2 linked regions of the Homo sapiens genome follow. The protein of the gene in region 2 interacts with the protein of the main gene of each other region in a pairwise test. Each region holds a gene or a part of one and is shown on either strand. Other genes may lie near its edges.

The links.
Region 1: the proteins of LRP12 (region 2) and MYOT interact in a two-hybrid assay, tested with the Homo sapiens proteins (one study listed by IntAct).

Annotation. Positions count from the first base shown.
Region 1 is NC_000005.10:137,870,860-137,885,913, reverse strand, and holds part of MYOT (myotilin), read right to left. Parts: coding exon 14,907-15,054; intron 10,086-14,906; coding exon 9,911-10,085; intron 8,395-9,910; coding exon 8,293-8,394; intron 5,607-8,292; exon of another isoform or gene 5,099-5,606; coding exon 5,049-5,098; exon of another isoform or gene 3,942-5,048; coding exon 3,809-3,941; exon of another isoform or gene 2,531-3,808; coding exon 2,323-2,530; exon of another isoform or gene 2,293-2,322; intron 1-2,292. UniProt on the Homo sapiens protein: Component of a complex of multiple actin cross-linking proteins. Involved in the control of myofibril assembly and stability at the Z lines in muscle cells.
Region 2 is NC_000008.11:104,491,323-104,508,490, forward strand, and holds part of LRP12 (low-density lipoprotein receptor-related protein 12 isoform a precursor), read right to left. Parts: intron 8,198-17,168; coding exon 7,995-8,197; intron 6,755-7,994; coding exon 5,650-6,754; intron 3,888-5,649; coding exon 3,755-3,887; intron 218-3,754; coding exon 1-217. UniProt on the Homo sapiens protein: Probable receptor, which may be involved in the internalization of lipophilic molecules and/or signal transduction. May act as a tumor suppressor.

The sequences.
Region 1 (15,054 bases), on a different chromosome or scaffold from region 2:
AAAGACATGCAGTACTATTTTGTTATACCATTCAGAATTCTAAACTCTAATGTAATGATGCATTGAATTGATAATCAGATAATTATATTTCATTCAAACTAAAGTCATATTCTTTTTTTTTTTTTTTTTTTTTTTTTTTTTTGAGACAGAGTCTCGCTCTTTTGCCCAGGCTGGAGCGCAGTGGCGTGATCTTGGTTCACTGCAACCTCCGCCTCCCAGGTTCAAGGAAGTCTCCTGCCACAGCCTCCTGAGTAGCTGGGATTACAGGTGTGCACCACACCCAACTAATTTTTGTATTTTTTTTAGTGGACACAGAGTTTTGCCATGTTAGCCAGGCTGATCTCTAACTCCTGGCCTCAAGTGATCTGCCCACCTCAGCCTCCTAAAGTGTTGGGATTACAGTCATGAGCCACCGTGCCTGGCCCAAATTTAAGTTATATTCTTTATCATCTCATCTACAGGGAGGCAGCATGAGTGATGGAAAGAGTATCAGACAGCTTGGGTTCAAATTACCTATTGGCTCCATGAGCCATGCCAAATTGGTAAAATTTTGTTTAGTTTCTCTGAGTCTCAGTTTTATCTATTGTTATAAAAAAAAAATCCCGGTAGTAGTGACTGTTGTGTCTACCACACAAAATAATTGTAAGGAACAAATGAGATAATAAACAAAGAGATACTTTGTAAACTCTGAAGGAATGTGGGAATATCAGTAATTATTATGACCTTATTTTCAGCTACCTGAGGGGAGACAGGAAACGATAGTTCAGTACCATAACCCTGGTTTTTCTGAAGGAGAAATGAGATTAAACGGATGGCAGCCAAGATCTCTTTCAGCTCTACTATTGTAGTATTTCTGAAGCCATTGGTACAAATAGGATTTGTCTAAACTTTAATCACTTAAATTGTATGTGTTTTTGAAAATTTCCAGCCCACTAGTTTTTCCCCTGAGATTGAGGCCCTTTGGTATATTATTGAATAATCTTAAAGATTTTGTATTGATCTGGGTAGAATATAAACTCAAGAAAATAGTTTATCCTTTAACCTGATCAAACTTCTGTATAATAAATAGTGAATTATAGCAAAATATCTCTTATGCAATATACAATGGCTTAAAGTATTAAAAATATGGTATGGGTTGAGTATCCATTATCTGAAATGCTTGGGACCAGAAGTGTTTTGGATTTCTGATTTTTTTTTTATTTTAGAATATTAGCGTTATACTTGTTGAGCATTCTTAACCTGAAAATCCAGAATGCTCTAATGAACACTTCCTTTGTGTGTCATGTCGATTTTGGAGCATCTTAAAGATTTCAGATTTTTGGATTAGGGATACTCAACTTGTATATTTAAAGCACTTAAAGTGTAAAATTTAAAAACCAGACACCAGTTTTATAAGAACTGCTCTACTTAAGACAGATTTGAGACATAAATGTAGCCATACCTGTTTTCTAAAGCAAGTAGGCCTGTTTTGGTTATAATTAGACATTAGTTTCCTAGTAAAAAGGACATAGTCTAAGGCTAAAAGTTGATATTTACTCTTGATTTTTTAAGAAATTTTTTTAAACAAGGTCTGACTGTGTCACCCAGGCCGGAGTACAGTGGTGCAATCATAGCTCACTGAAACCTCAAACTCCAGGCTCAAGTTATCCTCCTGCCTTAGCCTCTCTAGTAGCTGGGACTATAGGTGTGCACCACTATGCCCAGCTAATTTTTTTATTTTTTGTAGAGACAAAGAAGATCTTGCTATTTGTTACCCTGGCTGGTCTCAAACTCCTTGGCTCAAGTGATCCTTCCACCTTGGCGCCTCTTAAAGTGTTGGGATTACAGGCCTGAGTCACTATACCCAGCCTACTCTTCACTTTTAAACTATGTATTTAACGTTTGACAGATTATGATAATTCTGTAATACTGTGAGTCAGATTGGTTATTTTTATTATCCTCATTTTGGAGAAACAAAGACCAGAGAAATGATTAGACTAAGATTTTCATTTTGAGACTCTATAGTTACGTCTAGAAATGCTTATGCTTCATTATTTGGTTTGTCTAAAATTGTATGATTTATTTTCTTTCCAGAAAAGCTTTGGTGATAGATCTGTCATTCTAGTTTCACTGACTTTCCTTCACATATCTATATATGTATGTATGTGTGTGTATATATATATATTTTTTCCTGTGGTTTGTAGATAAAAATGGACATTCCAATAGGTTGTATAGACATTAACCTTAAATATGAAGTCTGCTGGGCTTTTCTTTTAAAATACTTTCTTTTTTTCAATACTTCTGGATTTTAAGGAATTCTCAAGGGTCTCTTTGGAGGCTTACCAAGGACATCCAGCTGCACAGTGAAGGTGGCTTCTCCTGCTCTATTCTTGGCAACACATGCATAAGCCCCTGCATCTGAAGCTCTGACTACTTCAAAGATGAGTGAATGAAGACCCTTCTCAGACACTATCATTTTGTGCAAATCATCTGATTGAACTGTTCTTCCATTTAGATACCATGACACATCAGGAGCTGGCAGTCCACTCACCTAGAAAGAAAAACACAAGGAGATGGCAGAATTTTAAAGTATTGCATCACTGAAACCTATTTGTCCATATATGAATTTAAACAGTTCCCGTATCTGAGTGGGTTTGCGATTGAAATGCAAAGCAAGAGCTCAAAAGTATTTATAATTTTTTAAACAAAACATTGGAAATAAGATCCTTGAAATTAACATAGTATTTTTAGACTGTCTCAAACCATAACTCTTTTACATGCAACCTCAGTCTCTTTATGAACTCTTAATTTCTATATTTAGAACATTAATTTATGTTACATTGGTTTCCATAAGGAATATAGAAGTCATTGCTTTTCTGGCTAAATGTGACTGCAAATGAAGTCCCAGAGGCACATATATATGAGGCTTCCTGATCTAATGCGTAATTTTTCTAAAACAGAGTGTTCTTGAGCTATAGTTTGGCATATAAATGGCAATTTGTTAAGTGTTTTTACATAAACTGTTAACAGTGGAATCCAAAGCTTTAACACTAACTTGAGTTCATAAGGAATCTGGAAAAAAAATTTTATAAGGAAAAGTTCTCCAAAATAAGGATAATAAAAATATAACCTCTTCTAAAGAGCTTTTCTAGTCTGAGGGACTCTTTTAGGCCAAGAGAAAGCAGGGTGGCTTGAATTTCTTGATAGAGGAGAATTGGAGAGACATTATACTTTAAGGCTGGGCACAGTGGCTCACGCCTGTAATCCCAGCACTTTGGGAAGCCAAGGTGAGTGGATCGCCTTGAACCCAGGAGTTCTAGACTAGCTGGGCATGGTGGCACGCGTCTGTAGTTTCAGCTACTAGGGAGGCTGAGTTGGGATGATGGCTTGAGCCTGGGAGACAGGTTGCAGTGAGCTGCGATTGTGCCATTGCACTCCAGCCTGGGTGACAGAGCAAGACCCTGTCTCAAAAAAAAAAAAAAGGGCATTGTACTTTAAAAATTATATTGTTCTGATAGCTTCACTTATAAAAGTATTTATTAGGTATACCTATCCACTCAATTAATCCTCATAATTTTTTGGGGTATTTGTTATCCCATTTTACAGATGAGGAGACAAAAGCACAGAGAGGTTAAATGACTTGTCTAAGGTTGCTTAGCTGGAGGATGGCAGAGCCAGAATTCAAACCCACATCAGTTTGACTTCAGAATTTGTGTTCTTGTCCATTGTACGTACTGCTTTGCAAGCTATGAAGTAGGAAAAGAACATTTTTCAAAACTTAGTATCCCATTGTTAATTTTCCCCCAGTACTTTTGAACCCTTCTCTTACTTTGAAGTCCATTCTGCAGAATCTTCCTTCATCAATCGACATGTTCTCTGGCACTTGAATGAAACGTGGTGGGTAAAATTTCTCCTGGATTGCATCCTGATCATTCACATCTCCCCTTGAGGTTGATCTACTTCTACAAGAATATTTTGGTAACAACTATGCGTAAATATTATCATTGCTTTTCATTTTGCACAAATATAGTTTAGCCATCAATTTTTTTTTTTCAATGGAGTTTCACTCTTGTTGCCCAGGCTGGAGTACAGTGGCCCAATCTCAGCTCACTCAGGAGGCTAAGGCAGGAGAATCGCTTGAACCCGGGAGGCGGAGGTTGCAGTGAGCCGAGATCGCGTCGCTGCACTCCAGCCTGGATGACAGAGTGAGAGTCTGTCTCAAAGATAAATAAATAAATAAAAATATCCAAATTAAGTTTTTGACGTTTTTCTATAGTGGTGGTGTGAACATGTATATAGTTATATTCAGAGATGTGGTATTTCAGTTATACCAACCTCCGCTTCTTGGGTTCAAGTGATTCTCTTACCTCAGCCTCCCGAGTAGCTGGGATTACAGGCATGTGCCACTACGCCTGGCTAATTTTGTATTTTTAGTAGAGATGGGGTTTCACTATGTTGGTCAGCCTGGTCTTGAACTCCTGACCTCAGGTGATCTACCCACCTCGGCCTTCCAAAGTACTGGGATTACAGGTGTGAGCCACTGCGTCCAGCCTAGCCATCAAATTTGAAACCACAGAATCTACTGTTTGATCTGATAGTGTAATAACAATGAAGAGAGGCCTTAGGGCTGTATTTACCTGTGGCATATTTGATGACTATTAGAAATGGTAGCAATTTAGAAACATCTGGTACAAATTGTACATCTTAGTTTCTCTTTTACAGTGCCATGAATTGATGAAGAAATGGTCTATTAAAATGCCCAGTACCCAGCAGATTATTCTTACCACCAAAGATTGTATAATAAGAATTAGGTCTCCATTGTCATGAGAAAATTGTTTAATATAGAAGCATGATCCTGGCTTATTTGACCAAAACATTAAAAAATTCCCCTGTGATAGTTTTGATGATGAACGTCAAAATTTTGGTCATCTTCTCAGACATTAGAAAATACACATTGTATTTTTCAAAAGGTATAGAGTAGGCTCGAGGGCTTTATAAATATTACATTTTTAAGCTGAAAATATTTTAGATAGGAAAACATACATTTCTTTAAAATTAAAATTTTTTACCTTACTTGTGATGTAGGAACTTGCAGTCGCGCATGTTCTGAGTTGTGTTGCTTGAAATTAAAACAAAGTAAGAATGTTTACATGCAATTGTTAGCTTGAATGAAGCAGAATTAAGTAGTTACAGTTGAAAGGAACATTCCTATTTTGGCTGTATTTGAACAGCCCTGGTAAGTTCTATATATTCAGCTTTTAAGCCCTTAAAGTACAGTGCACTAACATACTACCACTCTAGCAAGAAGCCCAGAATTAATGGGACTATTCAACAAGTATTATTTATGAAAATTAGCTAGACTTGGAATTGATGGTGGTTCATTTTTCAGATGACTATTTTATGACAAAGGGTGATGTGTCTCCCTGGTGCATTTGAAATGGGAGCACAGAGTACAGATTGTCCTTTAGTAAAACAGGAATAGACATGAAGTCACTTGTATTGGCAGTAGCTGCAGGGTATTATGCCTGCTGCTCAAAAGTGGCACCAACAGCAGTAAACACATATTAGACTGGAAAATTCTTCTCTTTTTAGCTCGTGGCACAAAATCCTGATGGACTCCACGAAAGGTATGTGTAAGGCTTTGAAAAAGCTTTGTAAAATAGCATTAATTCCTGTTTAATAAAGTTGTATTTAAGCAGACATCTTTTAGGATTTATATCCGAACAGCAGAAAATTATTTCTATTTGAGAATAAAATCAGGGATTTATGAAAATTATAAGAGAACTAATTGATTAAGTAGTGTGTATTTTGCGTTTCACTGTGCTTAGCACAGTGGGAGATACAAAGTGGAAAACACAGTCCCTACCCAAAGCTCTGTAGGAGCACACAAGATCTGAGTACAAATAATTTGCTTTGGGATGAATCTATTTAGCTAATGTATTTTGTCATTTTTAAGGCAAAAGTCTTACAACTCTGTAACAATTTTTGGCTAGCCTTAAGGTTCTCTAAGCAAAATATCAAGACAACTGGTCAATTCAGTGATCAAACAAATCAACTAATTTTTTGGTAAAGTAAAAGTAATCCAATTAAAAATATCCAGGCTGGGCACAGTGGCTCACGCCTGTAATCCTAGCACTTTGGGAGGCCGAGGCAGGTGGATCATGAGGTCAGGAGATCGAGACCATCCTGGGTAACAAGGTGAAATCCTGTCTCTACTAAAAATACAAAAAAAAAAAAAAAAAAAAAGCCGGGTGTGGTGGCAGGTGCCTGTAGTCCCAGCTACTCGGGAGGCTGAGGCAGGAGAACGGCATGGACCCGGGAGGCGGAGCTTGCAGTGAGCCGAGATCGCGCCATTGTACTCCAGCCTGGGTGACAGAGCAAGACTCCGTCTCAAAAAAAAAAAAAAAAAAAAAAAAAAGATGAACCATCATCAGTATAATATTGCTTTGAGTAATTCCCCTAATAGTGATGAGTTTGTGTCTCATTTTTGCTATAATCTTCCATACCAAGTGCAGAGCCCAACATACAAGTAGGTTCTCCATGTAAATTAGTTGAATGAACGAATTCATGAACTGTTTAGTAGCCAAAAATAAATTTAAGTTCTCTTTTCAGTTTCTAGTTCTTGCTCTGGTAGACCCTCTTCCATCCTTTTTAGTAGGTGTAGTTGCATCAAACAGAACCAAAAAACTTAATTTCAAAGGCCAGGTGTGGTGGCTCATGCCTGTAATCCCAGCACTTTGGGAGGCTGAGGTAGGCAGATCACTTGAGCTCAGGAGTTTGAGACCAGCCTGGGTAACATGGTGAAATCACCGTCTCTGCTAAAAAATACAAAAACTAGCCAGCACGGTGTGCGCACCTATAGTCCCATCTATTTGGGAGTCTGAGGCACGAGAATCACTTGAACTTGGGAAGTAGATGTTGGAAAAAAAAAACTGAATTTCAGTTTTCTACATTTGGAAGCTAGGAATATTTGTGTTCCTGGTTTAATCTCTTTGGCTCCCAGTTTCTTGTGGACTTTTTGGAGGGAATGGAAGGTAACTATGAAGGAAGAAAGAGTGCTAACATTCAGTCTACCTGTCCAACTGAACATTTTTCTTTTTTCTTTTTTGTGTTTGAGATGGAGTCTCTCTCTCACCCAGGCTGGAGTGCAGTGGCATGATTTTGGCTCACTGCAACCTCCATCTCACGGGTTCAAGCGATTCTTCTGCCTCAGCCTCCTGAGTAGCTGGGACTACAGGCGCAGGCCACCACGCCCAGCTAATTTTTGTATTTTTAGTAGAGACTGGGTTTCACCATTTTGGCCAGCATCCCCTCGATCTCTTGACCTCGTGATCCACCCACCTCGGCCTCCCAAAGTGCTGGGATTACAGGCGTGAGCCACTGTGCCCAGCCACCAACTGTACATTTTTCTTTGGGGTTAAGTTTACTTGTTAAAATCAAGTTGAGGCCAGGCGTGGTGGCTCATGCCTATAATCCTAGCACTTTTGGAGGCCGAGGCGTTCCAGCCTGGCCAGCATGGTGAAACCCCATCTCTACTAAAAATACAAAAATTAGCTGGGCCTGATGGTGTGCGCCTGTAATCCCAGCTACTTGAGAGGCTGAGGCAGGAGAATCACTTGAACCTGGGAGGTGGAGTTTGCAGTGTGCTGAGATTGTGCCACTGCACTCCAGCCTGCCTGGGTGACAGAGCAAGACTGTCTCAAAAAAAAAAAAAAAAAAATCGATCAGGTGCAAACCTGTGGGATGTGCCACCATAAAGTTAAACCCTTCTTGGAAAGGATACATTTGTTAATCTTAGAACAATTACTCATGAGGGGTTTTTTTTGGTTTTCAGAAAGCATTTTTTGAAAACAGGAATATAACAAAAGGAATTGGATGTTTCATTAGTACCACAAGTATATTTTAAAACATTGAAATGTTAAACAGCTTATGAGAAAGGTTATAATTACTTTCATTTATAATCTTAATTTCTGTCCTATTGGAGGTTCACAACCCATATATTCCCTGTCCGTGTAGACACCATAGAGAGTCCTAGGTCTAACTGACCCATAAATGTCCTGATAAAAAATAATACCATTAGACTTCTTGTGTTTTGATTTTGTGACGTTGTGTATCCAGGTATTAGAACTACCAGAAAATGGGGTAAAATGTGGTAAAATTATGTATATATGTTTATCATGGCCTCTTTATGTATCCAGTGGTGGATGGAACTGACCGACTTTTATTTCAGATGCTATTTATAAGCATTTAGAAAAGCAGACATTTAAAAATCGCACAGAATAAAAATACTCCACTTAGAGCATTTTAACTTACCTGCGAGTCTTGTGCACCACTGTCATCCTGAGCTTGAAACACAGCAGCTGCATTCTGTGGTCCTAGCAATCTGCGAGCCATCTTCTCTTCATATGTTAGACGCTTTAGAGAATTTATTGAGACAGTAATTAGATTTAATAAAAGATGTTTGTACAGGTTTACCTTAAAACCACTACTATAGGTCAGAACTTCAAAGAAGCATAGTTCTATCTATTGAATGATAGATTCTATTTTTTTTTTTTTTTTTTTTTTTTGAGACGGAGTCTTACTCCGTCGCCCAGGCTGGAGTGCAGTGGCACAATCTCGGCTCACTGCAACCTCCGCCTCCTGGGTTCACGCCATTCTCCTGCCTCAGCCTCCTGAGTAGCTGGGACTACAGGCGCCTGCCACAATGCCCAGCTAATTTTTTGTATTTTTAGTAGAGACGGGGTTTCACTGTGTCAGCCAGGATGGTCTTGATCTCCTGACCTTGTGATCCACCCGCCTCGGCCTCCCCAAGTGCTGGGATTATAGGCGTGAGCCACTGCGCTCGGCTGATTCTATTTTTTTTTTTTTAAAGTCTTTTCTTCCATTCAAAGCATTTTCCTTCTATTCTAGTACCATTTCCCTCACTTGCAGTAAAGGTTCACTTAGGCTTTCTTTTTGCTCCTATGACAGGCAAGCATAATCACTCTTAAATAAGGATCTCCTAAGTAAAGGGAAATTCAACCCTTTCCTCCGTTGTTCTGCATGTTCCAGTCAGCTTTGTTTTTGAATATAATACTTCATGTGCTCACATTCAGAAGTAATTTTTATTTAATTTTAATTAATTAATTTTTGAGACAGAGTCTCACTCTGTCGCCCAGGCTGGAGTGCAGTGGCACGATCTTGGCTCATGGCGACCTACGCCTCCTGGGTTCAAGCAATTCTCCTTTCTCAGCCTCCTAAGTAGCTGGAACTACAGGTGCATGCCACCACACCTGGCTAATTTTTTATTTTTAGTAGAGATGGAGTTTCACCATATTGGTCTGGCTGTTCTCGAACTCCTAACCTTGGTGATCCACCTGCCTTGGCCTCCCAAAGTGCTGGGATTACAGACGTGAGCCACTGCACCCAGCCAGAAGTAACTTTTATTAAATGAGCACTGAATATTTGATTGTACTAACTTCTGATTGAGAGCAGTCCAACTGATAGGCTAAATGTATTTGTATTAAAGGCATATAGTACTGTTTAAAGATAAGTTACTAATATAATATACACAATAAGGACTACATGATAAGAATTATAGCAATAATTACCTGTCAGTGTTATACATCAAAGTACACTAAGTTGACTTGACAGTAATTCCTAATAGCTATTTGGGCATCAGACATATTTTATGAGAGGGTAATATTTAATAACAGAAAAATTTCATTAAACCATTCAGATACATTTTTCATTTGCTTCATTCTTTTACTACTGTAAACCAAGAGGTGATTTCATGCAGAGAGAAATGGAATAGGGCCCAAATATTCCTTCTTTTTAGATAATCTTATTCCTTGTTGATATATGGACCTAGATCTGTGAGCTAGAACTTCCTTATTAAAATTAGATTTTATAGTTTAATTGGCCTTTTGTACAAAATAGACATCTTGCCCACTTGATTTCCATTATGAAGAAGGGTGTCCTTGCATTTCAGCTTTCTTTCCAAATCTTGAATCAAAGCTTCTTTTGATCCTTGTATTTCATGATCAGGAGTTCTTGGTATGGGCTTAGCATTTGCAGTTTGGGATGGCTTTGCATTTATAGGTTGGCCAGCTGAGGACTGTTGATAGCTTTAAAAAGGAAAAAGAAAAGATTTTTAAAAAGAAGGTCTTGGCCTCATTTTGCAAATTACCTTTAGATATGTTGAGTTTACCACTTAGTACTACTAGTATTATTAAAAACAAATTGCCCTAATAACAGTCAAGAAATATTTTATAAGAATGGTTACTATCTTTTTTTTTTCCTTTTGGCAAATGGAAATTAAGTGTCAGGAGGAAGAATTTAGATTAGACATAAGGAGGATGTCCTTCCTTGAAGATATTCCCTAAGGAATGTGAGAGTAAGTCTAGTTAGTGGCAGCTTGAGAGCTCTTCCAATCTTATGAGTAATTTCTTTAATAAAATTTTTTTTTAGATTCTGGGAGTACATGTGCATGTTTGTTACATGGGTATATTGTATGATGCTGGGGTTTGGCCTTCTAATGATTCTGTCACCCAAGAGGTGAACATAGTACCTGATAGTTAGTTTTTGAACCCTTTTCCACCTCTTTCCCTGCTTTCGGGATCTCCAGTGTTTATTGTTTTCATCTTTGTGTTCATATGTACCCAATGTTTAGCTCCCACTTATAAATGAGAACATGCTCTATTTTATTTTCTGTTTCTGTGTTAGTTTGCTTAGGATAGTGGCCTCAAGCTGCATCCGTGTTGCTGCAAAGGACGTAATTTTGTTCTTTGTTATAGCTACGATGACCGAATTTCTTGTTTGATTTATGGGTAGATATTAAGTGGTGGTATTCTGGAGCTGGTTCATATGGGCTGATTTTTAGCATCTTTTCCCAGCTTCCTATGATTTCATGTTATAGTTTGAAATTGGTTGTGGTGGAAATATTTACACCAGGGAAATCGGTAAATATCACAAATAATGGCTCTTTTGTCCAGTGATTGTTAGACATTTACCAGCACACCACTGGCTTTTAGTGAATAATCTTTTGCTTTGAATGGAGTCTACACAGTCATTGACTTTCCTGTAATTTCCAATTCCTATTAATTTCATATTCTAGAAAATCCAAGTATGGCACTATATAACAGCAAATAACTTCTAAAGTAATGACAGTTTCTTCAATACTACTGAAGTGATTTTTAGAGAAAAAATGGGATGATTTGAGGAAGGAGAAAGAAATGTAAACTGGAAAAAAGCAAATAAAGTCTTTATTTCAAATTTTGATCCTAAATTTTTTCTATGATGTCCTTGCCCCTCCCGTATTTCCCTTGTTGATTCTGATAGAGGATAGGGTGGTATTTAGAGAGTCCTGTATTTTTAGATCTGTTAGGTAGCTTAAATGTATCACAGTGCTTTATTCAGTTTTTACCTAGTTTATCCATTCAGAGCCCTGCAGGGGCTAATCTTTATTTTTAATTTTTATTTATTTTTTTGAGATGGAGTCCCGCTCTGTTGCCCAGGCTGGAGTGCAGTGGCGCGATCTCGGCTCACTGCAACCTCTGCCTCCCGGGTTCAGGTGATTCTCCTGTCTCAGCCTCCCAAGTAGCTGGGATTACAGGCACCCGCCACCATGCTCAGCTAATTTTTGAATTTTTAGTAGAGACGGGGTTTTGCCATGTTGGCCAGGCTGGTCTCAAACTGCTGACCTCTGGTAATCTGCCTGCCTGGGCCTCCCAAAGTTCTGGGATTACAGGCTTGAGCCACCGCACCCGGCCTGCAGGGACTAATCTTTATTAATCTATTTAATGTGAGGAAACTAGCCACTGCCCTCAATGAGTATTTTACCATTATTATAATAAATGTTCTCTGGCTATCCAGATGAGACAATCTTGGTCTCTTCTCTGAAATGATCCTTTCCAAATATTCTCAAGGATCATTAAAAGGACTTGTGAGCTAAGTATAAATGTATTTCCTCCAAGTAGGGCCAGAGTTTTAATTTTTACTGGCTTTGGGAACTTGGTTAGTAATCATTAGATTGTAAACATTCTGGAGAAAAAATATGTCTTATTTGTTATCATTATATCATTTATATCCACGAACACAGAGCATGGGTATAGGAGATACTATCAGTTGAGTGAATGAGTGATTTTCATAGTATTCAGGACACTCTATTGAAAGCTAATGATACACATTTCCTCTCCTGACATTTCAGGTCTTAAGATCTTTATGGTTGTCTATATAAATTTTTAAAGTCTGATTTGTTCAGTTAATAGCCAAACAAAATGTTTTTTAAAATAGCGATTTTTTTTTTAAAGATTGAATTCCTAGATCAAAGTGTCAAAATCTCTTTGGCCTTATAGATCTCATATTTTTTCAATCGTATAGAATTATAATAGACCACTTTTTTTTTTTTGAGACGGAGTTTCATTCTTGTTGTCCAGGCTGGAGTGCAATGGCATGGACTTGGCTCACTGCAACCTCTGCCTCTCTCTATGTCTCCCGGGTTTAAGCGATTCTCATGCCTCAGCCTCCCAGGTAGCTGGGATTATAGGTGCCTGCCACAACACCCTGCTAATTTTTTTGTATTTTTTTTTTAGTAGAGACAGGGTTTCACCATGTTGGCCAGGCTGGTCTCAAACTCCTGACCTTGGGTGATCCATCCACCTTGGCCTCCCAAAGTGCTGGGATTACAGGTGTGAGCCACACCTGGCCTAGCCTACTGTTTTTTTTTTTTTTAAAAATGCTAGCTTATCATCTTTATAAGTCACACATTTGTTAATGTGAATTAGCATTAAATAATTGTTTTTAGACTTGTCATATCTGGGAAATTCTGAATATATCTGAGAAGTCCTGAAGGATTATCAAAACCAATCCTGAGAATCACTGATGTATATGTAACCTCAGTCACTTTGTTCACTGAATACTCTCATTATTCCCAGTTTAGGTGGATTAAGTGTTACGACTTGATAAATGCTCCCATTTACAAACTAATAGTACGTTTGCACACTGCTTTATAGGTCCTTTCTCTATCATTAATTACCTAACTCTTTAATATTGCTACAGACCAGAAAATTGAAGCACTGGGTAGGTAAAGTGCTTGCTGAATTTCACATAGCAAGCTTTTTGGAAGGAACAATTGAGTTCCCCTCAGTTTTCAGTCTGTGGTTTGATCAACTGGGTAAAATGTTTGCCTAAGAGCTTCCTATTGATGAAAATCTAAATAAAGCTTTCAAATTTCTCTAGGTCAGAATCCAAGGGATTATTTTGGAAGTCAGGGCGAACTGGAGCCCATAATAACGAGGGAGTTGTGCACAAATGTTCAAAGGGCCAGGGCTTTCCACTCTGCACAGCTGGACACGAAATGGGTATCAAGTAGCTATGGGAAGATTAAAGAGTTATCTGTGGTTGCTGAAAATGGAACAGCTAAAGTGGATCTTTGATCTCTGGTTTGGGGACCTCCTAGGCTTTATTTCTTATTATGTTTTTGCCTTTCTCTTTTCTTAAGTCTTTGATCACTTTCTTTTCTGGGCAGTAATTTGAAATATGATTGAAAGACTTTACTAAGAAAAACAAAAAATTCTTCTAGATTTTAAAATGCTAATATAGGAAATATGGAAATAATAGAAAGCTAGATGGAAAATGATCATCTGGGTAAATATAACCAAGAAAGATCTATATATTATAAAGGGAATTTGGGAGGGAAGAGAAAGAAAGGGCTCTCAATTATTAAAAACATCCTTTTAAAATATTAGGTTAAACCTGTGAGAATGCCATTTTTGTAGGTCAAAAACAGTTGACTATCAGCCATTTCAAATGGTTCAACTTAATATCTATAGGATTCTAACAAATGTTTTTGGTTTTCCTGATTTTTATTTTTTAAAATATTGAAAAGGTTTTTTTTTGCAAGTTGAATTGCTATAGGCAGTTCAACTAGATTTCCAAAGTTGTCACCAATAATAGGAGTTTGTAGAAAAATTAGCCTCTAGAGAAGACTGCGAGAAATTAGCAGAGTTGAGTGAATGTATTAGTAAGCCTGCAACAAAACATATTCCATCAGACAATTTTTGAGATGCCTCTGATTTAATTCTCTGATGTTCCAGCCAGCCAAGGAACAGGAAAGCTGATAGCCAATAGTTTGCATAAGCACAAGGTATTCAGTTCATGTTTTAAAAAAAGCATAACCACCATCTCCTTTTTCATACTAGGTTCTCCTAGGACAGTCTTAGGGTAGTGGAAATAGCACATGTTTACATAAGGCCCCAGTATTAGTCCCTGTATTTAGATCAACCCAACTAATTTGAACAAGGTGTGGTTTTAATTACCAAACGAAACCGTAAGGTCATAAGCCTTCATCTATTCAGGCCTTCCTTCTTCTGATCACAGTAAGGAAAATGTATACATTCCAGGGTCTGAGTTCCAGGTTTTTTTATTTGTTAATTTAAAAATTTTTCAGCCAAGTGGATATTCAGGATTAGAGGGGAAAAGGGATAGGAAGAAAAGACTGAGAAGAAACTTAATAGCCTCTGCTTATGTGAGAGGAAATCCTATCTGAAGAAGAGCAGACAGGTGTTCATCTTAGCCAAGCCCAGAACCAGAGGAATTAAATTTACAGCATGAGGAGCTTAGCTTAGAACTAAAGGAAAAGTTCATTGTTCTTTGGTATGTGAGAAATTATTTTTTTCAAAGATGGAAAATAATGGGTAAATAATTTTATGGGGTAATAGGTAATTGGATTCAGCGCAGCTTGGACACTGGAGAATAGTCAGATGACCTCTTATTGCCAGTACCCTGGTTCAGCATGTTCTAGTAGAACTATGGAATGAGACTGTAAGGTCACATTGCCTTTTTAGATAGTAAAGAATGAACTGCAGCATACCCCCAAAACTCCTACCCCCTCGCAAACTCCTCAGATATAAGTTCACTGTACATGCGGTATATAAAAATTCACTTACTTGGAATCCATAGCGGAAGGGATTTTACTGCTATTGTAATCAGGCTGTGATGGTAATATGGAGCTGAGGAAGCTGGCTGGGGACTGGTTATAGGTGGTTGTAACCCTTTGGCCTGGGTTGGAGCCAGCATGCTGCTGGGGAGAAGCAG
Region 2 (17,168 bases):
GAGTATGATTTCTCTCAGGTTCTCTACTGGTACTCTGACTAGGGACAACCTCATCTCCATCTGCTGAGACCAAAGCCAATGACCCAGAATGACGTGATCTTGCAAAATTAAAAATACGGTTCCAAATGTTGCTTGATCTGCCTGCCATAGGAAGCCTGACTGAAGTAAATCCAAGCTGAGATCGTACCGCTAGCCTCAGATTTTCCAAAACAGAAGCCTACAAAAATAAGAAAAGATCTTAAGATAGTTAACAACAAGGTACTAAGATAAAAAAAAAAAAAAACACCCTTCTATTAAGAATGTGTTGTGGTTAAAAATTCTGTTACTCATTGTTGCTTTTGGGTCTAAGAAGGAAAAATTAAATTCTCTTACCTATGTGGGTTCATCCTACTACAGAATCTAATCTACTAATCTAACTTGAATCATTGTTTGTTTAAACTTTTCTTGATATTCCATTTTATATATGCAACTTAAAAATGATATTTAATGTAAATTATAACAGTTGTTTCAAAATCTCACATCGTAATCCAACATGAAAAGTGTACCAAAGCTAGAAAATAAAATTGATACTTCTGTAACTAGGAACATAGGAGAATCTCTACATAATTGACGAAGTGACCAAAATGAGTTTGTGAAAACGAGGACTTTTATCTTTTTTTTTTTTAAAGAACAAATTAGATTTAATTTACAAGGCTTAACTTTTCCAAAACATGTGAAAATTGTATTTCACAGAGTTGGTTCTCAAGCATTTGCTGAATGGATACTGAGGATTTAATTATATTGTCACAAATAAAGGAATTATATTTGTAATACAGCACCGAAGACAACAAGAAACAACAAAAGAACCTGTTTATATCATTACTCAATGGTATCGACATTTAGATTCCTTCTTAATCTTTAAAGTTTTATTTTCTATAGTTTAGTATTAAGTATAAATATATCATTCTTTGAAAACTAGTTAGCTGTAATTAGTGTACATGAAAGGTTGTCCAACTGAATAAAAAATCTATTCTTTTTTCTAGATGAACGAGTTTAGAGTTTGTTTTTAAAAGCATATAGCATTATATAAGATAGTCTTTAAGCTCCATCTAGTGGTTATAAAAAGAAGTATTCAAACTTGAAACAGCTTTCACCAACCTGGCATTTAGTATTTAAAAATTGTATTTCCAGGAAACAATCTTAAGTTGATATACTCTCCTTCAGTTGATGATACCATCTCCTGCCAAAACTCACACCTCTTCCCTTTCCCCTCACAGAAGAAAGAAGGTAGAAAATAAGGAAGATGTCCTCTTATGTTCTGTATCTCTTTGTGACTGGTATTGCATTTATTTATGCTTTCCATATAGGCCCTTCCATAGTGCCATGAACATAATTTATGATAAGAAGCTACTATCATAGGAACATTTCATAGTCTAACATTAGTAAGGCACAGATTGTCAATAAGAAATTTGGATATCAGCACACATGGATTTGCTATACAGATGAGTAAGAGTTTTCACCAATTAAGAAGTACCTAACTACAAATTAAAAAAAAAAAGAAAAAGAAAAAGCGGTTCACATTTATAATGAACTTCTCCACAGATCTGCTCCTCAACAGTGAGCATGCAAGTTTTAAGGCTTCATGTTGAGCACTATGCTATTATGTCCAGCAATGAACAAAAGGCTCTTCTGTTATCCTCTGTTGTGCTGCTATTAGCCATCAAGATCAACAATGCCTTCAACATACTTTATTGCTGACTTTAACATTTGGTTTGTCATACTGAGGTGAAACTCTCTATTTAGTTAAAAGTCAGTTAATTAGGATTGGCAATCTAACATTATATTTTATGAGGGGATCTCACGAATGTTCTAGGAATAATTTCATATACTTCTTCAGTTTATGAAGGAGAAAGCATTCCTCAAAAAGCGTTTCTCCTTTGAGTGAGATGGTGAATTACATCATTACTTATTTTTTCCAAAATCTGCTATAAAAATTTGGTAATTTGTTACCAAAAGCTTCAAACTTGAGAGTTTTTAATCTCATTAAATGAATACAATCTAACTTACCACCCATAAACATATTTTATTCTAAAATGTTGAAGTAGAATTCTCCCACGAGGGTACATATAACCTGAGAAACTGGGGTAGTGTGAGGTAATAAAGAATTTAACCTCACCCAAAGCCTCTGTCCTTGGCTTTTGGTACATCATCTCCAAGCCCTTCCACTGTCATGTCTGAAAGCAGTGTCTTTGCCTGGGGGCCTTGGACCAGCCAGATAGTAAAACTGATTTAGACTGGAAGCTCTGAACCACACCAACAGTGTCATGTAGGGTGAGGGCTTTGGGTCAGTCAATCTCTGGATAAGGCTAGAAACTGGGATTGGCCACATGTGCAATTAATCCTGCCTATGTGCTAGTGCACCAGTACAAACTCCGGACACCCGAGGCCTGGGTGAGCTTTCCTGATTGGTAACACTCCATGCATATTGTCACATATCTGTGTTCACACAGTAATGCCCTCCTGCCTCTATGGGGAAAGGACAACTGGAAGGTCCATGTTTGGTACCCTTCTGAACTTTGTCCTATGCATCTTTTCCCTTGGTTAATCTGTGTCTGTATCCTCTCCCTGTAATAAACTGTAATCGCAAGTGAGCTGCTTTCAGTGAGTTTTTTGAGTGTTCCTAGTAAATTATCAAACCTGAAGGGGATTTGGGGAACTCCTTGAATTTGCAATTGGTGTTAGGAGTGAAGACAATCTTGTGTGTACCGTGTTCTCTCTAACTTTATGGGGTTTAGGCATGGTGGGTGGTAGAGAATGAAGTAGGTGTGTAAAATTAACTGTGATCTGATTCTTACCTAAAAAAAAACTTTCCCCATAGCAGGGCTGATATAAAGAAGCCACAACTTAGGTTTTTCCTACTTTGCACACAAAATTCCAACAGTGGAACTTCTGAATGATTTACTTAGGAAATTACATATGGAGAAATGTTTTGAAACTACAAATTCTCACCAAAGATTTCCTAAAATACTCCAATAAGGTGATAGACTGTAATCAGAACTCACATTTACCAAAAAGGAGATGGTATTCTATTTTGAAAGTAATTATATTACTGGGAAAACAATGTTTACCAGTTTTAATTATAATACTGGAAACAACAGTTTTTATAAATGTTTCTGAATGAATTTACAATTTAAATGAATAAATCCTTATGCCTAAAATGAACACTGGCACATTTTTAAGCACTACGAGAAAAATTTTTTTAATTGCTAAGAAATTGAAAGAATTCAGAAACATATAATGAATTACTATATAAACAAAATGCTATAAATTGTTAAACACTGTAAAATCCAGCTTGAAGATGTTTTTCCTGAGGTAGAAATGTTAACTTCATTTTAATTACTTTTACTTATAAGTGGTTAATCTAGCATGTTATATTGCTAGCATATTAATTTTAGTGTTCATTCTTAAATCTTGCAGATGTTCAGGTCAAGTAAAAAATAATTTGCCAAGCTTAATACTTTTGAATTATAATGCACTAAATTATCCTAAACAGTAAAATGCTTAAGAATTGCACAACCAAATCAGAGGAATGAAAAATATACTTTTGCAGTTTGTAGTGTTAAACTATAATGAAAACTATGACTTCAAATCTTCCATACATTTAAATCCTTGATTGCAAAAATTCTGACAGTCAAGGGTCTTTGCTTTATCATATATACAGGCGCAGATTTCATTTTAAGAGGAAATGTAATAGAAATTACACATTGCAATATACCTGATTAGGTGAACAAACAGGAAAATCTTCAACTGGTGGAATTAAACCCTGAGCAATCAATTGTCCATACGAGGGAGGAGCTTCTCTTCTTAACAATTCTGCTTCCACTCTTGACAACTGTGTTTCAAATGATCTTTGAGAGTAGATGGAAAGAAAAATGATTAAAAGGGGGAGCGAAGAAAAAGAACAATTTTCTATTATCAGTAATTAAAACAATCTGAGTCTTGGCATATTTGATCATTTTAAAGCTTAGTCATTTGACAAACATTTACTGAATATATGTATTATCCCTACAGTGGGAATACAAAGCTGACGCAGGCAGTCTGTCTTCATAGGGCTTTATGCTAGTAGAAGCCTAGATCACTGAGTTTTAATAAATGAAAATCCCTGTAAAAGGTAAAGGGAGAAATAATACAAGATTTAAAAACTCCTAAGAATACTGTATTTACTGAATATACGTTGAAGCCACTGCGCCCAGCTGGGATCTTTGACTCTTCATTGTGCTCTTTTGTTGCAATGTGGTAAAAAGTTTTCTGGCCATTTACACTTGGCCAAAGATGCAGTGGTCGGGCGCCGTGGCTCACACCTGTAATCCCAGCAGTTTGGGAGGCCAAGGCGGGTGGATCACGAGGTCAGTAGTCTGGGACCAGCCTGGCCAACAGAGTGAAACCCTGTCTCTACTAAAAATACAAAAAATTAGCCAGGCGTGGTGGCGGGCGCCTGTAATCACAGCTACTTGGGAGGCTGAGGCAGGAGAATCGCTTGAACCTGGGAGACGGAGTGCAGTGAGCTGAGATCGCACCAGTGCACTCCAGCCCGGGTGACAGAGCAAGACTCCCGTCTCCAAACAAACAACAAAAAAAAAAAAAAGGAAAAAAAAGAAAAGATGCAGTAATGGTTATTACGATACTGTGCATCTGTGTGCCACCTATTAGCCATCTGTTACGTAAAAAGTTGTTAAATCTATTATTTGTAATTCTCCTGGGACTGAAGGTCATTGTCTCCACAGGGACATCTCTGCCATTAACTTCTGCCAGGTCCCATTTATCCTGCATCAAACTGAAAACTACTCACTCTGAAGGTCACTCTTTAACAGTTAACCATTTCTTACTGAACTGAGAACTCTGAAGTGCTGTTGTCACTTAACTCTACAACAGGACATTAGTCTTGTGTTCCAATCGTATCTCCTGTTAGCCCTTCATACGCATCCTGGGCTCCAGATAAACTGAATCATGTGCTTACTTTTTGAGCAATGCTGGACATTCCTACTTCTATATATTTTCCTAGGTTATTGCTTTAACAACACCTTTTCCCCTATCTATATTCTTCTACTCATACATTTCAAGTGGCACCCCTCCAATTAAAGCCTTTCTGCCTCTCTCCCTCATTAGATTACGTATTTTTGACTTTATACCATTTTGTTTCATAGCTCTTTATAGTATTATACTTTTGTCATCTTATTCCATGCCCCAATTCCTTCCTCCTAACTGTAAACTGCTTGTGATATTATGCCTTATTCATTTTTCTATTTACCTGTATGCTTTGAACATAGCATATAGAATAACTGGAATTTTTGAATTTGTATTTAGAAAAATACAGGTTAAAACACTAAAACTGAGAGCTGCAGCTTACAATATTCCTATAAAACAGATTAATCTGAAAACAGGAGCTGGTAAATAGATGGGCTTTTTCTCATAACTCTAAATATTTAGTTTGTAATGTGTCTGGCCTTCTGAGTCTCGGGTTTTTCACGCTAATTTTATACATCATCAACAATCTTTATCCATTTTCTAAACTAATATAAAACAAAAATACATTGCTAATCATCAAAGAACTTGTTTCAAACACTTGGGCCTGCTTTTATTGAGGCCCAATAGTTCTGTCTTGATACTGACCTTCTTTCAAACATTCTCAGAGAATAAAGCTTACAAGTACATCCCAATGCTATGACGAGTAACAGGCCACAGATGAGGCTCCCTATGACGGCAGCAGTGATGACTCTTGTAGGCACGATTACTGGGCAATTTTCTTCATCGCTGCCATCACCACAGTCATCTTGAGAATCACACACCCAACTTTCAAACACACAACGATTGTTTTTACAATGGAAATTTCCTGGTTGGCAAAAAAAGCAGTTTTTTTCATCTGAGCCATTTGGGCAATGATTCTGGTAGTTGCAGCGATCAGAACGAGGATAACAGACACCATTTCGGGAACATGGAAATTCTTCCTTCTGGCACATGGTACAATTGGTTTCATCCCTTCCATTTGGGCAATGCCAATACCCATCACAACGCTGCTGCTCAGTATAACACCCCCAGTTACCTCCACAGGGTATTTCCCATGGCAAACAGAACCCATCTACTTGGTAAGTAGCATTAAATCCCCTTGCAGCATTCACTTTATCAGCACAAAAATGTACCCTTATCTGTCCAGAAGAAGAAACAACTGTAAGAGGTGCATGAGAATCAAAAGCTGTCAACACACGCAAAAGCTTGTGTGGATTCTCCTCTAATCCATCATATATTTTGACATAATCACCATAACCAGTACCATCAAGTTTAAAGTCAGTGAAGCGTAAAATGACTTTACGGTGATCACCAGTGTCTATTAACCAGGTGCAATTGCTTCCAGGAGGATAAAAGTCTGGATAATTGGGAGAATTAAAAGTACCATAAAAATATTTTAGCCATTGCCCACATGTTGGCACATCACAGTCTATCTCATCTCCTAGGTCAAGGCAGTCAATGTTCCCATCACATTTTAAAGATTCGGGGAGGCAAGTGTAAACTTTGGTAAAACGGGATAAACACTGGAACTGGTTGTAAGCACAGGGTTGAAAAGCAGCAGCAGTTGGAGGATTTGCTTCTTTGGCACAGATCTCTTCATCGGAACTATCTCCACATTCATCCATGTTATTACATTTCCAGGCTTCTGGTATACACTTTCCATTACCACAACGAAACTGATCACAAGCACAATTTGGTTCCTCAGATTTCCCTGTGAAGATGTGAGTAGAAATAGATGGAAAGAGAAGGAGAAAAATTATAATCTTTAAAAGACATAAAACAGCAAGTGATATTTTTATAATAAATGTTCATAAAGCCCAAGTGCTAGAAGTTTTAAAAAACAGGTTGGTTTTTTAATATTTTAATTTTAAGTTCCAGGGTACATGTGCAGGATGTGCAGGTTTGTTACATGAGTAAACATGTGCCATGGTGGTTTGCTGCACCCATCAATCCATCACCTAGGTATTAAGTCCAGTATGCATTAGGTCTTTTCCCTAATGCTCTCCCTCCCACCCCACCCTCCCTAGAAAGGCCACAATAAATCTGGGGCCTGTGTCCATGTGTTCTCATTGTTCAGGTCCCACTTATAAGTGAGAACATGCAGTGTTTGGTTTTCTGTTCCTGTGTTATTTTGCTGAGGATAATGGCTTCCAGCTTCATCCATCCATCCAGCTTCCAGCAAAGGACATGATCTCGCTCCTTTTTATGGCTGCATAGTATTCCATGGTGTATATGTACCAACATTTTCTTTACCCAGTCTATCATTGATGGGCATTTGGTTTGATTCCATCTCTTTGCTATTGAGAATAGTGCTGCAATCAACGTATGTGTGTATGTATCTTTATAAATGGAATGATTTAACAGGTTGGGTTCTAATGACAAATTAGTACTGGCATGCTTACTCAACAATTCAATTTGTTAAATACTTATTATTATTCCATGAAGATCTTGCATTTTGATCTAAAAGAGAGGACTAATTCTGAATTATTCACATTTGTATGATCTGGTCTTGTTTTTTAGACACAATTTAAGAAAAGAAAAGATGTCGTTTTTTCTGAGACTATAAACTATGAAGGTGAAATTTGTTAGGTCTTTTCTCTGGAGGTATAAAAACAATGACAATTACCACAAAAATACATTCTGAAGTAACTTTCTGGATATGCGTAAGCACTTGAGGGAGAAAAGGCTATTCTTAGAATAAATGTATTTAAGATGTTTAAAAAGAAAATTAACCTTAGTATATGAAGTTAATCATTTTGTTAGAATTATACAAAACACCTTTTGGAGACCCAGCTTTAGGGCATCTAACTTTAGCTTCTAATCCTCAATCTCAGCTGCCTCAAGGGCCTACTCCTAATTAAATGAACACTACTTAGAAGATTAGCTCCGAAGTGACAGAGCAGTTAATACCATAAAATTCAGTTCAATATCTTTCTTATTTAAAAACACACCTGAAAAATATGCCAGTCTGAAACCCTTTCTAGAGATGTTGTCATCCGAATGAAACCTAATCCAGATGTGGTCTTGTGAAGAGATATACGGAGGTGGAATTGTGGAACCACAAGCTCTGTAACTTTCAATATTCTTGTATGTTTCTATTGTCAACCAGTCCAAATTGCACCTTCTGGATCCTTGAATATCAAAATCCTGAAAACTGAAAAAAAAATCAGAAATGTCTATTAAAAAGTCAATTTTGGAAAAAAAAATCGTATTACAAAGTAACTGAGGATATTATTATAAGCCTCCATATACTGACTGATTCTCCTGGGTTTTCTAGGCATACAACCGTATCATTAGCAAATAATAATACTAATTCTATGTTCCTCATATTTGTATTTCTTCCCCAGATTGTAGAAAAATAATTCTTCACAAGTAATGCTAGGTTCCAAAATAATGTTAAAAAACAGGTGACAGTTGGCACCTTTTCTTTTTCTTCTCTGTGTGTACGGTTGGGAAAGACCACTTCTAACTCAGAACATCCTAAACTGTTCTGTGTTCCAACCAGAATCACCTCTCCCCAATCTGATGAATTGAAGTAAACACAGAGAAACTCAGCCTTCTCTTAGATTAATACCTGCTTAATGAAAAGTTTGCAGCTGACATTCTTAGGAGAGTAATTAGCACAAATCTGAGCAAGGTAAAAGACTGAAAAAGGAACACACGAAAAATGTTTTTGGTGAAAAGTCCTTGAGTTTGGGAATACTTTTTTACATAAATCACTTTATAGCCAAATACTATCTTGTAGTTAATAAAATGTGGGCATAAGTATAGGCCAAAAACATCAAATAAATAAATGCACACAGAAAATTAGTCACTGCTTATGAAAAAAGAGAAACCAAAATACAGTTTTACAATATCTGAATATGCCTCACCAAAAAGTAAAGATCTGACTTTATATTCTTGCCTTTGCCTTAAACTAAGTGATAATAAAGTTAATTACCCAAGGATTATTATACCAGAATGTTTCTTCTTCAAATATTCTGAATAACTAACAAAAGCTGATAGACAATTTGATTGTTTCCAGGTTTGCACTATTATGAACTATGCTTTAAAAACTCCTGGCCGGGCATGGTGGCTCACGCCTGTAATCCCAGCACTTTGGGACGCTGAGGTGGGCGGATCACGAAGTCAGGAGTTTGAGACCAGCCTGGCCATGATGAAACCCCGTCTCTACTAAGAATACAAAAATTAGCCGGGCATGATGGTATGTGCCTGTAATCCCAGCTACTCGGGAGGCTGAGGCAGGAGAATCTCTTGAACCTGGGAGACAGAGTTTGCAGTAAGCCGAGACTGTGCCACTGCACTCCAACCTGGGCAACAGAGTGAGACTCCGTCTCAAACAAAACAAAACCAAACAAAACCAAACAAAACAAAACCCTTATACATGTACGTATCTCTCTTACAAGAACAAGAATTTCTCTAGGACAAACTATTCTAGAACTAGTATTGCTAGGTCAGAAGAATAATTCCTCTTTAAATCTGACAGACACTGGAAAAACATGTTTATACGAATTTACAGTTCTACCAAGTATGTACCAAAGTACCATATACCCCACACGTTTAGCAAAATGACATATTCTATTTTTAAAAATGTTTTGCCAATTAGGTAGACAAAAGAGATTTATCACTTCTATTTAGCATGTCTTTATTTACTGAGATTGAAATCCTTTTCCAATTTTTGGGTTATTTCTATTTCTTTTACTCCAAATTGCCTTGTTTTCCAAATTGCCTCCTTTATTCATTAATATTTCTTAAGAACTCTACATATTATAAACATGAGCTTATTCGGGGGCATGTATGTTATGTGAGACATGTCATATCCACCTACATCCACATTCTTTCTCTCCAATAGTCAGTGTGGTCAGTCTTTTTCATTTTAGTCACTGACGGGTGTGATCTCTTATTGTGGTTTTATGTACACTTCCCTGAAGACAAATTTGCTGAACATCTTTTCATGTGATTATTGGCCATTTTTATATCTTCTGTGAAGTATCTGTTCATGTCTTTTGCCCATTAAAAAAAAAAAGTTATAAAAATCCCTTTTATATTCTTGGCCGGGCATGGTGGCTCACACCTGTAATCCTAGAACTTTGGGAGGCTGAGGTGGGCAGATCACTTGAGGTCAGGAGTTCGAGACCAGCCTGGCCAACCAAAATGGTGAAACCCCGTCTCTACTGAAAATACAAAAATTAGCTGGGTGTGGTGGTGCATGCTTGTAGTCCCAGCTACTCGGGAGGCTGAGGCAGAAGAACTGCTTGAACTTGGGAGGTGGAGGTTGTAGTGAGCTAAGATCGCACCACTGCACCCCAGCCTGGGCGACAGAGCAAGACTCCACCTCAAAAAAAAAAAAAAAATGGATTCAAGTCCTTTGTTAGACATGTGTATTGCTAATATTTTCTTCCAGCCTGTGGTTTGTCTTTTCATTTTCTTAATGGAACCTTTTAATAAGCAGAAGTTTTAAATTTTAGTCTTCATTAAGTCTAATTTGTTATTTTTGCTTTGTGTTTAGTGCATTTGTTGTCCTAAGATATCTTGGTGTTTCCAAAGATCTCAACGATGTTCAACTACTTTTTAAGTATTTCAGAGTTTTAGTTTTTACATTTATAGCTGAGATTTATATAAATTTTCGTGTTTTCAAGTAGAAAATGAGATTCTTCTTTCTTACATTTATCTAGAACATAGAAGATACTAATTTTTGTTCTATCACACAGTTAAATTAGTCTGATGACTATGAACTTGAGGAGGTTTGGTTTTACACTTGTTTAAAGTGAGTTTGTTTCTGCTTTGCCCTTAGTCTTAGGGGGAATTCTTAGTTTAAGGACACTGTCTTTACTTGTAAAGTATGACACACAGAGTTTCATTAAAAATCTCAAGGCATTTATTTATGAAGCCCTATACTCGGTCTCCCCTGTGATGGACAGGATTCAAACTCCACATGCTGCCTCTGCTGTGGGGTGCAGCAGCTGAAATCTTCAGCCTTCCTGCTGTTACTTTCCAGCAGGTTCCTTGGAGTCTTCTTTAAGCACACACAATTCATGGGTCAGCTAAGGATTCGAGAATAATTTAAATGCAGTTACTTTCCAGCTTGTGGTTCTCTCCTTTCCAGGAGTTACCTTATTAATTTCCAGTTACTGTCCCATCCTCAACTGCATCCTGACACCTCAAGCTGACAAGACCACGGTGATCTGCTTGAGTTCCAGTCACTCCACGTTGCACAGACTGGCAAGAATCTTCAGAGAACTGGTAGGAAACAAGCCTATCTCACGAAGTGTGGTTCCTTCTTTCAGGGGTGGAATACTCTCCAGTTTTTGCCAGTTTTTTATTACTCTCCAGAGCCTTCAAATATCTTTTCCAAACTTAATAGCTCTTGTTTATGGGAGGTCTAGTCCCATTCAAACTAGGGAATCCCTAGTTTGGTTTTAAAATATCTTATCCAAACTTAATAGCTCTTGTTTATGGGAGGTCTAGTCCCATTCAAACTAGGGAATCCCTTAATAAACTTTTAGTCCACTAAACATTTAAGATTCATGAAGGCAAAGGCTGGGAGAGGTGGCTCACGCCGTAATCCCAGAACTTTGGGAGGCTGAGGTGGGTGGATCACCTGAGGTCAGAAGTTCGAGACCAACCTGGCCAACAAGGTGAAACCCTATCTCTACTAAAAATACAAAAATTAGTTGGGCGTGGTTTTTAATTTTAGTCTTGATGAAGTCTAATTTTTTATTTTTGCTTTATGTTTAGTGCATTTAGTGTCCTCTCTAAGCTATCTTGGTGTTTCCAAAGATCCCAAAGATGTTCAACTATTTTTTAAGCATTTCAGAGTTTTAGTTTTTACACACCTGTAATCCCAGCTACTCGGGAGGCTGAGGCGGGAGAACTGCTTGAACCCGGGAGGCAAAGGTTGCAGTGAGCCAAGATGGCGCCACTGCACTCCAGCCTGGGTGACAAAGCGAGACTGTGTCTCTCAAAAAAAAAAAAAAAAAAAAAAAAAAAAAAGATTCATGAAGGCAGAAACCTTGTTTAGAATAAGAAACAATAAATATCTGTTCATGTATACCCTATTTTAGTTTGCTAATTCATTTAGGATTTTTAAATAAGTAAAATTACTTTTTGGTTTTTTAAATGCTTCATAGTACTTTGTGTAATAAAAGCACTGTTGACATATTTGTGCTCTGTGCCTATTTAGAATATATTGAGTCAGGGAGAGAGTTTCAATTTCTTGATGTTTTTTGGTTTAATCAGTGTTTCTTAAACTTTTGACCATTTAAATTTTCTTAGAAATTGATCTTATGTTGATAGTAAAATTTATTACTACAAAGCTCTGTACACAGTACTTTCATACAATTTAAAGACATTTTTTCCTATCTGTGATCTTTAAGTTTGCTTTAGACTGCTTAAAACAAACATATAATTAGCAAATAAAGGTTTTCTCTTCCTTCCTATTTTCTTTATATCACTGATTTCTATCTGTTGCACTGTTGCATTCACTAAGAATTCTACTATAACCAGTAAAAGCACACATTTTTGTCTTGGTCCTTGGTGCTATAATTAACTTTGACATTAAATTTGCTTTTGAAAATTTTTAAACAGACACCCTTTACCAGGTTAAGGAAATTCCTTTTCTATTCATTTAGTAAAACTTGCCTATAAAACTAGTTCTAGAGTCTTAATTTGAATGCTGATTCAATTTCTTCAATGGCTACTGATTTCATCCGTTTTCTAATTCTTCTTGAATCAATTTTAGTAATATAAATTTTCTAAAAAATAATCCAATTCATCTACTTGTATAAAAGTATTAACATAAAACTGCTTATAATATTCTCTTATGACATTAAAAATTTTGTTTATAACTACAGACACTTTTGCTCTTTTTATCTTCTCTTTTTCTTCAGTTTTGCTTTGAGTTTTATCTATTTTCCTGAGTTTTTCAGAAAGTCAGCTTTTTGTTTTATTGAATTTTATTGCGTATTTTCCTGGTCTTTACTGCTACTTTAAAATTTACCCTCTAATTCTTTTCCTTAACTCTTGAGTTAAATGCTGAGCTTATTTATTTTCTAATTTTTAAATCAATGCATTAAAGTTGTAAACTTTTCTAAGTATTCTTTCAATGTATTCTAACAGTTTTAATATGTATTACTTTCACTATGGTTATTTAAAAAATATTTGGTCCCATTGTGATTTCCTCTTTAATTCAGGAGTTATTTAGGAATATATTTCTAAACATACAGGTTTATTTTTTTCTTTTATTTTAATTGCATTGTGGTAAGAAAACACAATCTGAATGATGTACAGTCTTTGAAATGTATTAAGAGTTCCTTTGTGATGTGAAACATAATCAATTTTTATAAATGTTCCACATGTCTTTGAAAAGAATGTGTATTCTTTGTTGAAATAAGTATTAAAGGTGTGTTAAAAATCTCCCACTGCAACTGTGGATTGGTCAAATTTGCCGGGCAATTCTCCACATTTTGCTTTGCATGTATTTTAGGCTATGTAATTAAGTAAATGAAATTTACTGCTGGTTTATTTTCCTGGTAGAATACCCCAATTGTTACTAGTATTTTGTGCCTTAAGCTCAATTACAATGGATGTTAATCTTCCTACACTAGCTTTCTCTTGATGAGTAGCTCCAAAACTAACCTTTTCTATCTCGTTTTGTTTTTGTTTATTTTTAAGACTAAGTCTCATTCTTCCACCCAAGCTGGAGTGCAGTGGTGCATTCATGGCTCACTGCAGCCTCAACCTCCTGGGCTCCGGTAATCCTCCCACCTCAGCCTCCTGAGTAGCTGGGACCACAGGCAACGTGCCATCATGCCCAGCTAGTTTTTTGTATTTTTTGTAAAGACAGGGTTTCACCACCTTGCCCAGGCTGGTGTCGAATTCCTGAGCCTACCTTGGCCTTCCAAAATGCTAGGATTACAGGCACGAGCCACAGCATCTGGCCCATCTCCTTGTTTTTAGACATTCTGTATTAGTTTTGTTTTAGATGTGTTACAACCTTTCTACTTGGGAGAGAGTTCTCATTTTCCTTCTTTCCTTTTTTTTTTTTTTTTTTTTTTTGAGACAGGGTTTCACTCTGTTGCCTAGGCTGGAGCACAGTGGCATGATCTTGGCTCTGTAACCTCCACCTCCTGGGTTCAAGCAGTTATCATGCCTCAGCCTCCTGAGTAGCTAGGATTATAGGCGCGTGCCACCATGCCCAGCTAATTTTTGTATTTTTAGTAGAGATGAGGTTTCGCTATGTTGGCCAGGCTGGTCTCAAACTCCTGACCTCAAGTGATCTGCCTGCCTCAGCCTCCCAAAGTGCTGGGATTACAGGCGTGAGCCACCACATCTAGCTTCCTGTCTTTTTTGAATATATTTTTAAAGTTCCTTTTCCTCTGTTAACTGCTCAATATTACTCCTATTTTTAATCAGTGGCTACCTTTTGATATTTTAACTGAAATGCTGAAACACACTTTTTTTCTAACAAAGTCCAAGTAAGAATATTCGGTGTTTCTCCTGTCCCCTCAAAAATCACAAATAGGGTAGAAACAATTTAAAGCTTTATTTTCACTAACCTTTTACTAAAATTTAGCATTTCCTACACTTATAAACAACAAACCATGACAGTATTTATAGCACTGGCCACTCCACCACTATTCAAAATTAGAGATATTTTTATGTTACATTTCAGTTTTTACAGATATCTAAAAATACTATTTACACGTAAAATTTTTTCTTTGAAATTAACCACTTGATTTTGCTAATGTGTTCATAAATAAGCATATATTACATTACAAATATTAAAAAATATCTGATAGCTGTACTTTAACATAATTGGTTCCCTTTGTAATGCTATGTATTTTTTTTAATGAATTTAAACACATTATTCTGGGAAAGAATACATAGGTTTTACCAGAATACTAGGTGGCCGTGGCATAAAGAAAGTTAAGAAATAATTCCTGACAGAATACATCTTAAAATGCCTGGAGTAAATTTGAGTTCCAACTTAATTTTGTTTGGCTGTTTTTCTCAGCATTCAATTTTTTCACACATTCTGGAATTTTGGTTTACAGGTTTATTTTATGGAAGTTTTTTGGTTTTCTCTCTTTTTTTTAATCCTCTCTTCTTCTATGTTCCCCTACTTGGGTCTACATTCCAGAACAAGTCTTAAATGATGGTTCAGAGTATTACAGATCCTTTCATGGAGTCAGCAGGTGACATAGTTATTCATGTTTGTTAGGTTATGCCCTCTCAGCTCTCTAAGCTCTCAGCCCCATATAAATTCAGGCTGTGGTTGGTGGAAGATTTTTCAGCCTCCTGTCTGGAGCAAAATTGCCCGTCCCTAGTCCTTGGCTTCAAGCAGGGTGCTGGTATTCAATCCTCTCTTCCCCATGGATAAGGTGGCCTTTGTTGATTATAGTGGGTTCCAAGGGAGAGGAATGAAGTAAAAATGCCTTTATTTCACCATCTTAAGCAAGTTTTATACAGACAGTTCTCAGTATTGTTTTTACTCCGTAACTTTAGTTTCCCTCTTCTATCCAGATTTTAAAAAATCATGTTTCTAATTCCATTTTACTAAGAATTTAAAATTTTTATTTTAAATTCAGGAATGAATGCTGATTTTCTTTTTTACCAAGATGCTTCAAAGCATCTGTGTACACTAGATAATCATATACTTTTTCTTTTGACTTGTTTACATGGTAAGTTAATTTAATATTTCCTAATACTGACTCATTTGTATGTCTAAAAGAGCTACATTTAATTATGCATATGATTCTTTTGAATCATTTAAGATTATGCAATGATAATCATATGTAAAACTTGTCTTTGTGTATATGCAGGTGTGTCATCTTTTTAAAGTTATGGTATTACCATGATAATGACTTCAGTAAAGAATCTGAACAATTACTAAAATCACCTTCTGATCTGTATACATCGAAATTCATTGCTCCCTTCTAAAATTCAGGAAATTTTCCTTTAGCTGTAGGGCTCACTTCAATTTTATTCTGCATTTCAGTATTGTGCTTGGTTTTTAGTGTATCTTAACCTCATGAAATCTCAAGGATGCAATACATTATCAAAACCAGATGGCAGTATTTCATGTAATCTCCTCTGTGCTGGTAAGATTTTCAAGTTTTACAAAACTGAGCTATAAGTTGTAAGTTAAATTTTTAGGTTAAAAGGTGAAGGTCTCTATAAATTCTAGTTTTATGCTAAAAAACTCCCAATATGTGGTAAAAATGTTATTTTGTAAACATACTTAGTCACACTACAAGTAACAGAAAATAGGTATATTATTTACATTTAAACACTGACCCTGTTACAGAAAGATAACCTTAATGGTGCATTCTACCACTCAATCAGGCAAGAGAAAAACACTGCATGGAGGAGGAGAACAACAGCTTTTGTATGTGCCAAGCTCTGGGGTTCCAGAAGAGGTAATGTAGGGTAGAGGAAAATAAAAGGAAAACAAACTATGGCCCTTGTTTGTGGTTTCCACCAAAAAAAGGAGATAGATGACAGTTATGCTTCTCAAGAGAGATTGGTTTCCTCATCAGTTAATAAATACAAAAAAGGAAGATGAAAAAAGATGAGAAAGTAGGCTAAATGTATAAGTCTTATTTTAAAAACATAAAATGAAGGAATTTGAGTTTATGATCTCCAAAGTCTCTTCTAAATCTAAAATTCTATGCCTCCTACCCATACAATGTTACACATGAAAACATGTTGAAGGTGCCTTTGTGCTACACTGTCTCTGTGATGGAAATGACATTCTTATTTGTGTTTTGTTCCAACTGCAGTTCTTCATTCGGGCTATTTTTTTTTCCCCTGTAGGTAAATATTTTTTTCCTAATGGCCTTGATAGAATTTTCCTAAGCAAGCAGTATCTAGTTCTACTAAATATATTCTTTACAATCTTATTCCCGTACTGTTTTTCTCTGCAAGTAATTTGCTAAATGTTTTAAAATTTAATCTTAACCTTCCTTATTTATATGTCACATTCATTCTTAGAATCTTAAACTTACAGCTATTTCCCCTAGGAATGCCTTTCATTTGTATTCTTAACAAATGTTCTTTTGTTTCGAAGTTATAAACAAAGATTTTTCTAGATATAGTATTTCTCCATTATCAGTTTGTTTCAA